2 separate regions of the Homo sapiens genome follow, and region 1 is linked to region 2. The links come from fine-mapping of genetic effects on gene expression. Tissue or cell type: fibroblasts. Region 2 holds a variant in brackets; the other region holds the start of a gene. All regions are shown on one strand. Distances are between the middles of the regions.

What was found. PIP is the estimated chance that this variant, and not a neighbour inherited with it, causes the effect.
Region 1: it holds the start of NLK, and the variant in region 2 is fine-mapped to the expression of NLK in fibroblasts (GTEx, PIP above 0.99).

Annotation. Positions count from the first base shown.
Region 1 is chr17:28,037,656-28,045,839 of GRCh38, forward strand. NLK (nemo like kinase) reads left to right here and starts at 5,022. Exons shown (of 11, transcript NM_016231.5): 1 at 5,022-5,676. The coding sequence starts at 5,219. It overlaps LOC105371709 (a long non-coding RNA gene), which reads right to left and starts at 4,065. Exons shown (of 3, transcript XR_934637.4): 1 at 3,942-4,065; 2 at 3,571-3,749. It overlaps LOC102724517 (a long non-coding RNA gene), which reads left to right and starts at 5,683. Exons shown (of 2, transcript XR_001752820.2): 1 at 5,683-8,184. RefSeq lists an enhancer at 3,468-3,762 and silencers at 3,930-4,159, 4,180-4,409.
Region 2 is chr17:28,088,342-28,096,525 of GRCh38, forward strand. All of the region lies in intron 1 of NLK (nemo like kinase), which reads left to right. Among named protein-coding and RNA genes, the nearest start is that of NLK, 50 kb to the left of the region's middle. The variant G/A (reference allele first, on the strand shown) is at 4,516.

The sequences.
Region 1 (8,184 bases), 51 kb before region 2:
TTTTTTTTTTTTTTTTTTTGAGACAGAGTCTGGCTCAGTCGCCCAGGCTGAAGTGCAGTGACGTGATCTCGGCTCACTGCAAGCTCCGCGTCCTGGGTTCACGCCATTCTCCTGCCTCAGCCTCCCAGGCCGGCTAATGTTTTGAATTTTTAGTAGAGACGAGGTTTCACCACATTAGCCAGGATGGTCTCTATCTCCTGACCTCGTGATCTGCCTGCCTCAGCCTCCCAAAGTACTGGGATTACAGGTGTGAGCCACTGCACCCGGCCTCAACCATTCAGCCTTTCATTTTCACTACAGTATTCAATAAATTATGAGATATTCAACATTTTATTATAAAATAGACTGTGCTAGATGATCTTGCAGAACTGTAGGCTAATGTCAGTGTTCTGAGCACGTTAAGGTAGGTTAGGCTACGATGTTCAGTAGGTTAGGGTATTAAATGCATTTTCAACATACGATGGGCTTATCGGGACACAAACTCGGCCAGGCGCGGTAGCTCACGCCTGTAATCCCAGTACTTTGGGAGGTCGAGGCGGGCGGATCACAAGGTCAGGAAATCGAGACCATCCCGGCTAACATGGTGAAACCCCATCTCTACTAAAAATACAAAAAATTAGCTGGGCGTGGTGGCGGGCGCCTGTAGTCCCAGCTACTCAGGAGGCTGAGGCAGGAGAATGGCATGAACCTGGGAGGCGAAGCTTGCAGTGAGCCGAGATTGCGCCACTGCACTCCAGCCTGAGCGACAGAGCGAGACTCCGTCTCAAAAAGAAAAAAAGAAGGGACACAAACTCATCATGAGTCCAGAAGCATCTGTACATCTATCTCCTCTCCCCCACAGTTGAAGTTAGCACCATGCCTAGATATAATTGGTGCTTAATACATGTTTGTGGAAGGAATAAATAACTCTTAATGTACAATTGTTTTCTCGTGGATTAGATTAATTTATTTATTTCACATGTATCAAGCACTTTCTATGTATTATTATAGTACTATACTAAGCGCTGAAAAAGAAAGTTTACAAAGACTAAGCTCCTTTACTCTAGGCCTGTGCTTCTTAAGCTCTAGCGTTTGTAAGAATGACCTGGAGAGCTTGTTAAACAGATTCCTCCTCTCCTCCTCCAATTCTTATTCAGTAGGTCTGAGGTGAAACCAGATAATTTGCTGAACATCTAAGAAGCTTTTAGGAAACTACACTTTGGAGGAGAGTGCTGTGCATTGGAAAATTGGAAACATCTCAAATATTACATGAGGGTGAGTGTTGAAGAGAATTTATATTGCATTTTCACTATTTGCCAAGCACGTTTAAATACATCACCTCATTTAACCCTCATATAGACCTCATGAGTCATGTATTATTTCAGTTGAGGCAACTGAGATTGAGAAAGGTTAGTTAAGTTGCCTAAACTATAGAGTAAGTAAATGGCAGAGCTTGGGTTTGTACCCACTTCTGCACTCAGTAATTCAGGCAAATCTGTAGCAAGTGTCTTCTTTTTTTTCAGGCACTGTCCTAAGGAACTGGGCATACAACATTGAGTGAGACAGACAAGCTCTCTGTCCCCGGTCAAACTCAACAAGCACTTAAAATATCGATATGAGGGAGGCAGTGTCATGGAGATATACAACAGAAACGTATACTCTAGAACAGAGTTAGAACTTTCCAGGAAAAAAAGTAAAATTTACACGAAGACCTGAGGGATGAATTAGAGCAGTGAAGGATGAGCGGGAAATGTTTTGGGCTGAAGATATACATGAAGGCTTGAAAGCATTCAAGGAGCTGCAGGAAGTTCAGAATGTCTGAAGTGTGGAGTGGAAGGGAGAGATAAGACCCTTGAGGTAGGTAGGCAGGAACCAGATCATGCCAGGCTATTTAGGGGTACAGCCAGCCTTTTTTTTTTTTTGACAGGATCTCACTGTCACCCAGGCTGGAGTGCACTGGTGGGATCTCAGCTCACTACAGCATCTACCTCCCTGGCTCAAGCTATCCTCCCACCTCAGCCTCTTCAGTAGCTGGGTCTAGAGACATGTGTACCACTAATTTTTGTATTTTTTGTAGACACGGGGTTTTGCCACATTGCCCAGACTGATCTTCTGAACTCAAGGGATCCACGTACCTTGGCCTCACCAAGTGCTGGGATTACAGGTGTGAGCCACTGCCCCTGGTCTCAGATTTGTATTTTTAAAAATTTACTATGCCCCCAGAGGGGGATGGATCAAAGGAGAGCTAGCTTGCAGGCAGGGAAATGGTTAAAGATGTTAGTGGTGTAAATTTGGGTAAATGCTGTGTGACTGGGAAGTAGCAGAAGTGAGGGGGATTTAAAATTGTTTAAGACTTGATGATTCAGCCTGGGCAACATGGCAAAACCCCATCTCTACAAAAAAATACAAAAATTAGCCAGGTGTGGTGGCATGTGCCTGTAGTCCCACCTACTTGGGAGGCTGAGGTGGGAGGATCATCTGAGCCCAAGAGGTGGAGGCTGCAGTGGGCTGTAATCATGCCACTGCACTCCAGCCTGGGCAACAGAGACCATGTCTCAAAAAAAAAAAAAAAAAAAAGAAGACTTGATGACTGATAGATTGGAAGGGACAATGTGGACAGGCAAAGGAGGGATCGAAGATGACTTCCAAGTTTTTGAGTAAACTATACAGTTTCAGTAGGGATAAGGTTCTGTAAGCTTATTATTTCACATTTTAAAGGAAGGGTAAATTCAGATAAATGAAGTGATGGAAAGATGCTATTTTAGTAAGATTTCAATGACAGAAACTTACTTGATAGAAAATATGGGAGAGGCTGGAGGCGGTGGCTCACGCCTGTAATCTCAGCACTTTGGGAGGCCAAGGTGGGAGGTGGGAGGATCTCTTGAGCCTAGGAATTTGAGACCAACCTGGGCAACATATTAAGACCCTGTTTCTAAAAAATTAAAGAATCAGCCGGGCATGGTGATGCACATCTGTAATCCCAGCTACTCGGGAAGCTGAGGCGGGAAGATTGCTTGAGCCGGGAGTTGGAGGTTGCAGTGAGCTAGGACTGTGCCACTGCAGTCTAGCCTGGGTGACAGAATGTGACCCTGTTAAGAAAGAAAGATAGAGGAAAATTATTATTTTTGTGGTCAAGTTTACTTTTTTTGTTTTAATTTGCACCAACAGCTTTATCATTTGTCGACAGTGGAGTTCTGAATGCCAGAGATTCCTCCTCTTTTTGCCAAGATCAGGATTAACTATGGAGAGGACCGGCCGTAGACTACGAACTGTCAGTCTACTGAGTTTCTGTCAGTCTTTTGAGTTTCCTTTGTCTTCTTGTTGAGTGACCTTGGACCTTGAGTTTCTGAAGCTCAACATTCCCTTTTTCTTCCCCTATTTTTTACCCCACACTTTACATCTTAAGTGGGATATTGGACATCTCGGATCAGTGGACCAGTGATGATTTGGACTCCGCCTTCTTCGTCTAGGTCCCGCCCACTTTAAGACCCCACCCCTTCCCTAAGCCCCGCCCCTTGAAGAGGTTGTCTCGATATGACAGCAAATTCTCCACAATCCTGTCCTATAGGAGATCTAAAGGGTGGGACTTACATCAACCTTTTTTTTCCATTTGTTTTTTCAAGTGTCTATTTGGCCCAGGTTCCATCCCACTTCATTTTCAACCCAAGGATTGGTTACTCTGTTCTTTGTCTCTGGCTCATGATTGGTTCTTTCGTTCCGCCCCTCTCTTCCAGCTTTTGCAGGCGGGATTACCACGCAGCTTCCTGCTCCTGCCAAAAAAAAAAAAATAAATAATAAAAGAAGAAGAAGAAAAGAGGAGAGAGGCGAAAGAAAAATGTCACAAAGATCTTTGCTTTTTAATTGGCTTTAAGCCTTGTCGGTCAAGCCAAACTCTGCCTTTGATTGGTCTTTCTATCTGCCCATCCCGGATCGGGGGCGGGATTTCCCCGGAAGACCCACACCTTGTTGCCACTGGCCGAACAGTGCGCCTGTCTGAAGCTCCTGGCCCAGGATTGGAGGCGGTGGCGGACAGGTGGGCGTGGATTGGCTAGGGCAGCCGGTCCGTGCAAGGCGGGGGCGGGGCCTCGGCGGCTGGTTGCGCGTGTCCGACGCTGGCTCCGCTCTATCCGGCTTTGCTAGGGGAGGTGAGTCCGGCCGCGGCGGAACCGGCGGCTGAGGAGGCGGCGGCTGAGGAGAAGGCGGCCGCGGCGGCTGAGGAGAAAGCGGCCGCGGGGACGGAAGCCGGGTGGGGGGGAGGGGGGGAGACGGAGCAGCCTTGAGCCCTGCGGGGCCGTTGCGCGGGGGACCCACCCGCTCTCCCCCCCAACCCTCCTCAGCAGAAGCAGCCGGCGGCGGGGGCAGGAGTCAGCCCGCTTCCGACCGTACCCCGCCCGCCTCCCGGGGCTCCTGTTCTTTGGCCCCGGGACCCTAACCTTCTCCCGGGGCGGTTCCCTCCGTCTGGGCGTCCGAGCGCTGCCCACATCTTTCATTCCTCCCTGCACCTCCTTCCCTTCACTTTTGCCCCGGCTCTCTTTCTCCTCTCTGTCCTGCTGTCGCCTCCTCTCCTCACTCCAGCCTCCTTCCCTGGCTTATTCTGCCCAGGAAAGTTTGGAACCCCCGCCCCCCCTCCCCAATCAGGTCAACCTGACTAGGAGTAGGGGGAGATGTAGGAAGGCCTGAGAGTTCGGGGGGGGGGAAGCTGGAAGCTGGTTTCCCAGAAAATTTCCCCCCATCTTCTCCATTTAGGGTGGTGGGAATTTTTTTTAATCCTGTTTTTGAGGAGGTGGTAGGTGTTTAGAAAAGGATGTGGGAATGGAAGGGGTAGATGAGTCAACCCTCTTTCAAGATTCCAAGGGTGGTGTGTTACCTGATCCTTTTCGTGTGTGGAGTTCAGGGGGTCGGGAGGTTTGGCCTTTATTCCCACATTCAAAGTTGGAACCTCCCCCAAATTAAGAATGGAGTTTTAGTACCCACTTGTGGCAGGAATCCTGGGGGGAAGGGGTCCTTTTTTCCTTTTTCTTTTCTTTTTTCCCTTTTTTTTCCTTTTGGCAACCCACACCCTTCCACACACGCTCACCCCAAAATTAAACACCAAGATCCTCTAACTTGTTTGGATTGACTGATGAAGACATAAAGCTCTATGTTTTTTGAGGTGGAGTGAGTGGTTTTTCTTCATTTTTAAATGGCCAAATGACAGCTTGACCCAGTTTGCTTTCCAATCAAAGGGCATTTATTTTGAATGTCTCTTTGTGGCGCAAGAGCCAACGCAAAAATGATGGCGGCTTACAATGGCGGTACATCTGCAGCAGCAGCAGGTCACCACCACCACCATCACCACCACCTTCCACACCTCCCTCCTCCTCACCTGCACCACCACCACCACCCTCAACACCATCTTCATCCGGGGTCGGCTGCCGCTGTACACCCTGTACAGCAGCACACCTCTTCGGCAGCTGCGGCAGCCGCAGCAGCGGCTGCAGCTGCAGCCATGTTAAACCCTGGGCAACAACAGCCATATTTCCCATCACCGGCACCGGGGCAGGCTCCTGGACCAGCTGCAGCAGCCCCAGCTCAGGTACAGGCTGCCGCAGCTGCTACAGTTAAGGCGCACCATCATCAGCACTCGCATCATCCACAGCAGCAGCTGGATATTGAGCCGGATAGACCTATTGGATATGGAGCCTTTGGTGTTGTCTGGTGAGTATCCAAAGAAAAACACAACCTCTCATGGTTTCTTCTGTTGGTTGTCATTGGATGAGTCCATCTCTAATGGTTGTCTCCATGTTGACCAAGGTGCAGCAAGCTTCTCAACCCAACTGTAGGAAGCCACCCTCACTTATGTGGTAAAGAGGCCTAATGCATTGGCTGTCTAGGCTCATGGCAAGTTTTGGTGGAGCGCCTTCTCATGAGCAACACACATAAGTGTGCTGTCTACCAAACTTTTCTATTAGAACCTAAGCAAGCCACTGAACACAGGATCAGTAGATGAATGTATGCAATACTAATTCCTACGAAGACCTTGGTCATCTCGTGTGTTTGATTCAGTGGCCCTGTGGCATTAAGTGTTAGCACCTGATCCAGACTGAATTCCTTTATAATACTCTTGTCATTAGGATATACTTTGCATAACTACTTTCCTGTCCTTTCTGTCTTTTCACTTATTTTGTGATCTTGATCTCCAGAAGAAAGATAGGATTCATAGTTGAACCAGTTAAGATCATTGCTTGAGTGGTTTATTTTAAACCATAAAGCTACAGTTGAGAAGTATGTAGCTGTAGCCTTTTGATAAGAATGCATTAAATATAGCATCACACATGAGTACCACAAATGAGGTTAGTAGACTAGCTATGCAGTGGCCCACATTCAGTGTAATGTTTTAGTGTCATTTAGTGCCTCTTAAGTTGCTGTTATCTGTTGGTCAGTTGCTGTAGTAGGAAATAATACTTTTTTAACAAATGACCCTACCTTTGCTAGTGCTAGGATATTTGTAAAAGCCTAAGGGCTTCTTAAATATAACATTTTGGTCTATTTGGTCTAACCTTAGAAAGATTAGTAGTTTATAATAAAATATGTTTGTTCCTATCAAAACTAGAATGAACTGGGTTTTCTCCCAAGGACTAATGATTCCACTTTGGATAGATGAATTGATATTTTCAGTGCATTCAAAAATTGTTACTCCCGAGAAAAGCGCCCATTACCACAGGAAAATGAACTCTTTGGAACTAGCCCGGTAAATATCTCCTTTCGTCATTGTTTTTGAGGCTAAAATTGATGGGTGCATTGTTTATGCATTTTAACTGGCCATCTTATTTATATTTCAGATTTGATAATCTAGGCTGCTAAGTGATCTCATCCATTTTTTAAAAAAACTAGTAGAGTCCAGTGTTTTCTCAGCTAGTCCCCAAGGAAGTTTCTGCTGCAGCGTGGTCCTTTCTTCAAGGTGTGTGGGATTCAAGGTGGAAAAGAGTATAGCTGGTAATGGTGCCTTGGTCATTCTGCTCAGGGACCTGCCTGTTCCTGCCTTCCTCTCTTCCCTTCCACAGACTATCTCAGAGATTTAACTGTGAACTTATCCTTGCCTAACTCTTGAGGATTTCCAAGCTTTGGTTGGGGGATGGAACAGACAGGAAAACGGTTGTTCCTTGGTTTAAATTTTGTCATTGATTTACTAATAACTTTTAGCACTTGTTTGGATCTTCTTAGATCTGGATGCTTACTTTCTTTTTTAGTGCCTTACATACAATGCTAAAAACTAGGGATACTGAAAGGGAAATGGGTTGCAGCATTCTTGAATATATTCAAAAGGCATTTTTCACTTACATTTCTATCAAAAAGTGATGTGACTTGTAGCAGTTTTTATTTTATTTATTTATTTTTTTAAGGAAGGGGGCAATAAAGAACTGGAGTGCTGAAACATCTCACACAGCAAACGTTCTGCTAGTGGGTACTATGAATCTTTGATATCTGAAAGCCCACATATATTTGGTTTGAAGCCATTCTAGAGGTTTTTAATTGATTGACTGCTCTACCACCTATGGAGTTTGTCTCATGTACTTAAAGTACACCTCTGTGCACCATCTTACTTCAGGTTTGTCTTGTGTCACTGACTACATTCGTAAGCCCCTTGAGGGTAAGGATTGTCTACTGTAGTAATCCTTTTCTCCTCAGCGCCTAGCACAGTGCTTTGGCATCTTTGCTGCTTGGTTAATTGATCTAGTCAGGTCCTTCTTTGTTTTGGCTTAAACAACAGAAAATTATTTCTCACAGTTCTGGAGGCTAGAAATCCAATATCAAGGTACAGGTTTGGTTTCTTTTGAGGCCCCTCTGCTTGGCTTGTGGATGGCCGTCCTCCTGTGTTATCACGTGATTCGGGTCTTTGTTTTTTTAACCAAGTTTTTCTAGTTAACTGCATTGAGTGTTTTCATCAGCTGTTACAGGTGAAATACAATTTGGTATGAAAAAGGAAAGAGTTCCAGGTGTATGTTTTAGTATGCAAATGCTTTTCTATTTTTATATTTACATGTCAATGACTTGCTGTCTGAATTCCTTATTATATTTGAAATTTAACTGTTGTATGACCTAAGTAAGACTGTTTAGAGATTTGAAAACCAAACTACCGGGAATTGCACTAATATTCTGAAACCCAAGGTAAAGATATTAGTGAGGTTTTTTACTTTTTAACTGAAACAGAATGTATCTTTTTAA
Region 2 (8,184 bases):
GTTTGCAAAATGGTAATAATCTAATTCTACCAGGTCTTCTGTATTTGTTAGCTGAAATAGTTCTATAAAGTGAAACTTCATTTTCTATTTGATTACTTGTTGGTAGGTACGGTTTCTATAAATGATGGGATAAATGCATAATTTGTTTGCTTTATTCATTTTCAAAATAATGAATTGATCCATTAGCATCCTCTAACAGTAACCAGTTAATTAACTTATGGATTTAAGTTATATTTCATATAGAAAAATATTTCTTAGTTTCAAATAGAAAAATATTTGATATTTTTATTTCACTGAAATCATTGTCTTTATTGGTATGCAAGTTGTTATTTTGGTCACTGGGCTCCTGAGTCCTTTTGACATAACCCTAGTTGTCTAGATTTGACAACATGTTCCAGGCTCATCTGTACATTTTCTAACCCAGATCTGGAATCAGCCATTTCTCCAAGGTTCCCTTGGCACTAGAGGTACTCATCGCTTGGGTTTGTCATTGTTTCTAGGCTTTTTTTAGTGGGCATATCTTTAAGATAAAATGATACCAGGAGTTCATACTGATACTTCAAATTCAAATGATTAAAATTCTGGTCTTGAATCTCCTTTTTCCCATACAAAGTATTGGTTCCCTTGGTTTTCAGTGGTGCCAGAAATGATAGAATTAGAACTTCACATAAGTATTCATTTGTTCACCTCACAGTGCATACACAGTACTCAGAATACCAGCACCAACAATATGATTAATGAAAACAGGTTTAGATGATGTAAAGAACTTTGTTAAAATCATATGGTTTGGTAAGTTTGATGTACGTATACACATGAAACTATTGCCTCAGTCAAGATTCTGAACATATTCATCACCACAAATTCCTCTACCCCTTTGTAATATTTTCTTTCCCCACCTTTCTCTTCCCACTGCCATCTGTAGGCTTTTTGTCACTATAGATTAGTTTTCATTTCCTAGATTTTTATGTAAATAGAATCATATAAAATGAACTCTTTTTCATCTGGCTTCTTTCACGCAGCTTATTTATTTTGAGATCTATCCATGTTGTTGCATGAATTAATAGTTCATTCCTTTTTTATTGCTTAGTAGTAATCTATTGTAGAGATATACTATAGTTTTGTTGTTTTTTTTTTTCATTCACTTACTGATGAACATTTGAGTTATTTCTAGTTTAGGGCTATTAGAAACAAAACTCCTTGGACATTCATATATAAGTCTTTGCATGGACATATGCCTTCATTTCACCTGGAATGAAATGGCTGGATAATAAGCTAGGTGTATGCATAATTTTTTTAAGTTAAATTGTTTTCCCAAATGGTTTTACCACCTCACATTTCCACCAATAGTGTGTGAGTTCCAGTACCTCCGTATCACTGCTGTTACTTAGTATGGTTAGTTTTTTAAATTTTAGATATTTTAATGTGTGTGTAGTGTTACTTGTGGTTATAATTTGCATTTTGCTAATGACTAGTGATCTGCCATCCTTATGTCTTCTTTGCTGAATTATCTGTTCAAATCTTCTCTCTACTTTTAAAAAAAATTGTGTGTGTATTTTTTTTATTGAGCTTTGAGGGTTTTCTAATGCTGAATACAAATCCTTTATCAGCAACATCATTTGCAAATAAGTACTCCCAGTTTGTGGCTTGTGTTTTTGTCTTTGTAACAGTGTCTTTTGAAGAGCAGAAGTTTCTAATTTTAATGACTTCCAGTTTATCAGAATTTTAAATGAATCATGCATGTTTATCTTTCTTGTTGGCTTTTTAGTTGTAACTGTTTGCTATATTATTTTAATGATTGGCTTTAAGTATATGGTATACATCTTTAACCTATCACAGTATACCTTCAATTGGTATTATACTATTTTATGCATAGCATAGTAGTCTATATCCATTTCTCACCTTCCAGCCTTTGGGCTACTGCTGTCATACATTTCACTCTTACATATGTTTTAAGCCCCACACTACATTGTTATTTTGCTTTAAACAGTTGTCTTTTAAGGAGATTTAAATAATACCAAAAGTCTTTATATTTACCTGTGTGGTTGTTGTTTCCTGTGCTTGTTATTATTTTCCATGCTCTTCATTTCTTTGTAGATACCCAGTTTTTCATCTGTTAGTCATTTTACTTCCTTTATGACTACTTATAGTGCAAGTCTGCTGGTGATAAATTATTTTAATTTTTTTTTAATGTCTGAAAAAGTCTTTATAGCATCTCCATTTTTGAAAGGTTTTTTTAGCCACGTGGTAGCTCACACCTGTAATCCCAACACTTTGGGAGGCCGAGAGGTGGGAGGATCGCTTGAGGCCAGGAATTTGAGATCTCCTGGTGGGAGCTTGTTAAAAACATAGCGGGAGCTTGTTAAAAAATAATAATAATAATGAAAGTTATTTTTGCTGGGTATGCAATTTTAGGGTGACTTCCTTTAAGTACTTCAAAGATGTTACTCTGTTATTTTCTGGGTTGTATTGTTTTCAATGAGAAATATGCTATAATCCTTATCTTTGTTCCTCTGTGTGTAATATGTCTTTTTTTCCTCTGGCAGCTTTAAAGATTTTTCTCTTTATCAGTGGTTTTGAGCAATTTGATTGTGATGTCTAAATGTAATTTTCTTCATGTTTCTTCTTGGGATTCAGTGAGTTTCTTGGATCTGTGGGCTTATATTCATATAGTGGAATACTATATATATGAAATAAATGTACTAGATCTAGATATATTAACATGGATCAATTTTATTTCATTTTATTTATTTACTCGTCACTGACTTGAAGCACATCAACATGGATAAATTGTAAAAACAAGGCTGATTTGGGAGAAAGCAAGTTATATATAAAAGCTTAGGCCAGTGTGAGCCATTTATGTAAATTTTAAAAACATAAAACAACCATATTTTTATGGCTACAGTCATATGTATCAAAAGTTAAAGTGTGAGTATCAAGGATTCATACCAGAGCCAGAATAATGGTAAACTGGGACAGATTCAGTTAAAGATGCAGTCTTTGGATGCATCTGTAGTAGCATTATGTCTTAATAAAATGTATCTGAAGCAGATGTGGTAAACACTTTTATCTGGGCAATGAGTACACAGCGTTTAATTTCTACATTTACACACATGTCTAAAATATATAATTATATTTATATATATATATATACACACACACATATATAAAATCATTGATATGAAAAAGGTCAATACAGTTCTTATAGCTTCTGTTGCTTCACTTTATTAGATATAAAATAACCCCCTTCCACATAGTTAACATTTCAGTAATCTACCAAATAAAAGTTATTCCCAGAGATGTAAGACCTGTTTCTTTAGAATGTCATGACCAGAATTTCCATAGTAATCTCTAAAACGACACTCCAGTGAGACAGTCTGATCTGTGGGTCATTTCCTTTCCTGTTAAGAGACCTTTGTTAATTCCATTTTGCAGTATCCCAGAAGAAACATTGCAGGTGTGCAACCAATCCAACTGAAACAGATAATACTGGGTAATGTTCCCTTCTTACTCTTCCTTTTTATTAATGCACTTATTACCCATCTTCCAAAATAAAAAGTCTTTGTCATACTGGCATCTGATTTTTTTTTCTTTTGACAACCAGCCTGTCTTCTGTCTCCTGAATTTTATTTTAACATCTTTTAATATGTTGCCAGGTAGGCACCCCTAGTTGAACAAGAAAGACCTGGAAATCATTAGAGCTAACAATATACAGGTTTTTCTTAAATGTGCTGCCAAAGGGCATAACCTCTTTGGATTGGTGACATGTAGCACTTGCACAGCAGCTTTTCTTCCCATTTCTAATGGTAAGAAGTAAAATAGCCTTCTGTCAGGACCAACTTTTCTTTGGACACATGCTTCTAATCTTAATGCATTAAGACTGGTGTGTTGCTCAGAGCTTTTTTTAAAGAAACCAAAGAAAAGGCGGGGGGGTGGGGGGAGAAGGAAAGGTAAGGAAAGCCTACTCAGCATTTTCATTTGTCTTCCAAAAAGAATTTACATTGAAATGTAACAGCAGTTTCAGAAAACTTGTGGATGTACACATTTCTTTACAGCAAATGGAAACAAATTTAGAACATTTACTTAATAGGTGGGAGCTCTTCCATTTTGGTGATACTTATTTTTCTCTTTGGAGGAAGCCATAGTTTGTGAGGGAATTTTTTTGTTCCCATTAACTATATAAATATTTTAGAATGGTCTTTTAGGATTTATCTTTCCTGTCTTAAAGCTGTTCCACCCTCAGGCTCAGTCAACTGTGTAACTGTTTGTTTTCTAACCAGAGTTAAGTTAGTAAAGCCCTCCCCTTCAACAGTCACCTATAGCGTAACAAGTTCGGGGAGATAATAGTCAAACAAAACAGACTGTATCCTGCCTCGAAGTAGAAAGAGCTAAGCAACTAAGTGGCTTGTTTTTATTTTATTTTATTTTATTTTATTTTATTTTATTTTATTTTATTTTATTTTATTTTATTTATTTATTGAGACAGAGTCTCACTTGCCCAGGCTGGAGTGCAGTGGC[G/A]CAATCTTGGCTCACTGCAACATCCGCCTCCCGGGTTCAAACAATGCTCCAGTCTCAGCCTCCCGAGTAGCTGGGACTACAGGCATGTGCCACCAAGCCCAGCTAATTTTTGTATTTTAGTAGAGACGGGGTTTCACCACATTAACCAGGATGGTCTCGATCTCCTGACCTCCTGATCCACCCACCTTGGCCCCCCAAAGTGCTGGGATTACAGGCGTGAACCACCGCACCCGGCCTAGTGGCTTGTTTTTTTGTTATATTTTTAAAGTTTTCCTAAACCAGTTTTCTGAGACTAAGAGTAACTTCATTAGTTGGGAGGGGAGTTGCAGGGAGGAGGGGATATGCATTAACAAAACAAAGGGCTTTCCTTTCTTTGAAATATTCTCATGACCAGATGCTGGAAAAATATACAATAGATTTCTTAAATATAATTCTAGCTCTGAAGTATATACATACTTAATGAAACCAAAATTGAATGCTCCTAAAGTAGGCTGATCTATATATAATAGCATTTCCAAAAGTAGACCTTTTGTGGGCGATCTCCATTAACTCTCCCTCGGTATCTTAACTACATATTCCCCTTACTCCATAGGCATTCCAAGAGGAGTAATTTATAATAAAAAAAATTCTGTGAAATGTGATGGTCATCAAAGGGTTCCTTGGAAGGTATGGTGGGAAAGCTTTGTAATTGCTGCTTCACAGAACTTGAGTTGAGGGAGAGCAGTCTGGTATAGTGAAAAGAACATACACTGTAGAGTCCAAAAGACTTTAATCCAATCCCAGTTCTGCCCCTTATTCTTAGGACGGAAGCAATCTGACATCAACTCTCAAACTACTTGGGAGTTGTACGTAACACGTGGCAAGTTCGTTAACTTCTCTGTGCATTAGTTTCCCTGTTTGAAAAATGAAGATAACAATTCTTCCCATGAAAATTGCACACCAAAGACTCACCATATATTTCATTTGTTCACCTCATTTATTTGTGTTTTACTGGACTAATGGTTTCTGCTATTGTTAATAATTAATGAACATTGTGTCAGGACTTATTCTGTTGTCAGACTGCCTTAGGATATGATCTGCATTATAACATTAGAATTTCAATCCAACATCTCTAGAAAGAGTATGACAAAAGATTGCAAAAAAATGACTATTATTTAATAGGGTAGCAGAAAGAAGCTGTAACATTTTTACTAGAATATGATTAATTCACAGATGCTGACAAAAGCCATTATATTCTCATCAGATGATACTTAATAACTTGTGGACAAATAAGATGACTTGTTTTTATTCATGAGAGATTATATTAAGCTCTCTAGAAAAGCTGTAATTCTTCAGAACGTCCTAGAATTTACTGTATAGGGAATGGTTAGATTCTTCAGGTTTCTGAGCAAAAACAACCCCCAAAACAAAACCAAATTACCCACGTAGTTTGAGAGATGATGTCAGATTGCTTTTGTCTTAAGAACCTACAAGCAAGAACACATTTCAATAAGGCTGCCTTTCTCTTTTACACCTTTGAAATTACTGCCATGGATATATTTACTAGTAGTGCATTATTAACCCAGCTATGGCCACTTGCCTTTTGCTGACCGAGTTCAAAGCTTATGTACCAGAGAGGAAGGTAGTATTGGGAGGGGAGTTCTTGACAAAGGAGCTACTGATTTGCATTTATGGTAATACGTAATGTAAAGTCAGTCATCAAAAGATTAAGTATCTGAAAAGGATTATTTCAAACATTGCCATCCCTAGGGGTTTGCTGTTGAGGCAAATTACATTATTTATAGTCTTTGAGGTGGGTGGGTGGTGGGGAGGAGAGACAAAAGCTAATATTTTTATACAGGTGAAAATAAGCATCTGGTAAAGGGAGGTATAAGAGTTGGAATTCTTGGATTACAAAAGTTCAACTTATATTAGCTAAAAAGTGGGTATGTTGCCTCACATAACCAGGCTTCAAGATGGATAGAGTAGAACTAGCCTTTGATAGTGCAAGACTTGAATATTGTCAAGACTCTTGTCTCCTTTCTCTGACTTTCTCTGCAAATTTGTGTTTATTTTTTAAATTGTTTTCTCCACAGGGCAGAGGTAGTTCTCAGTCCACATATTTGCAGCTCTTCTTTAACCAAAGAGGAAAGGGACCTGACCTAGCTCCAGTTTTCATGATATCTAAGTCTTTTTTGGTGGTGGAGAATGTAGTCTCCTTACCAGAATAAAATTAGAAGGAAAAATTGGGAAGATACAAATAATTGCCACCTCAAGTGGAAGTCATTACTGTGAGTGCTAGAAAAGGATTGTCCTCATGGGGAAAGAGACCATGAGTTATACATGGTGCTAGCAAATGTTACATGATACTATTGTTGCTGCCTTTCTGTGCTAGTCCTCCTGCTTTATCCCCATATTTCCCCTCTGTAGTGCAGTACCCCCTCAAGCTGGGAGGGTAGTCAACTTGGACAGCGGCCTGGACCCTAGGGAAGAGTTTGCTGAAAAGTCTACATGGCCATGTTATCAGATTCGTTCCATTCCTAATTCAGATTAACAGCTTCTACATGTGATGGAATTGTATTACTTTCTAAAAAAAATTTCAGACTGTAACTCAACATAGTTGTGGAAGAAATTCAGAGCTTGTGGGAAAAGATGCATCTCTCTATCCAAGTCTCACTTCTAGAGGCAAGGATTCTACTACTCAGGATTGTAGTATGATTGTACACTTTAATCTTCAAGGACTTTATTATAAAGCAAGGTGCCAATATTATTACTGATGCAGATTATCCTATGATTCCAGATTTCTGCAATTACAATATATATATTTGAAATGATTATTCCATTAAGCAACCCACTTGCCCCTTGCTGTGACCCTTGCTATGGTGTAACTTTTAATGTTTCTGGTTTTACAAAAGAAAATCTGCATCAATCCTTAAAGTTACATTTAAAATTTACATTAACAGTACAACCAGATGGCATTCTGACACTCACTGTAAGTATTCTAGGATTTTTCTAAAATAGCTGGCTCAAATAGAAAAGTCATCTTTTTCCCAAGTGTGTTCCTGTCCTTTTCTCTTGTTGTGTGTTCTAACTGTTGCACTTATATTAAAATCATAAAACCAGAATGGAGAATTTATTCCAAAAGTTCCCATGCATTTCTCCAATCTTACTTCCTGTTGCAAGGACCCACCATCACAAATGAAGTGTAATTGTACATTCATGATGACGTCTTGCTTATTAAATGGTGACATTCAAGAAATTGTCAGCACAGGCATTCTTTTATAGGTCAAGGATATACTTATTTTGAAAACGTTGAAAAATAATAGTAATTATTTAACTGATTTCAGAAGAATCTATTTCAGTGGCATCCTGGACTTTCTACTGACTCACTAAAAATAGGGATTTTTGAAGAGGATGACAAAATTCATAAGTCCTTGATTCTACTATGTAAAATTATAATTTTACACAAGAAAAAGTACAATGTGGTTTACTTTTAGCCTAGTTTACCATAGTTAAGCCAAGAAAATGTAAGCTAACCAAAAGCTTGCAGAATTGTCGTTATTGTGACTCAGTGGTATAGACTTGAGTTTTCAAAAATGAAGTGTTCTTGTAATTTTTTTTATCCTCCTACAATATAGTCTCAGATATCTAGTCCTAAGGGGCTATAATTGAAGGAATATTGAAGGAGGA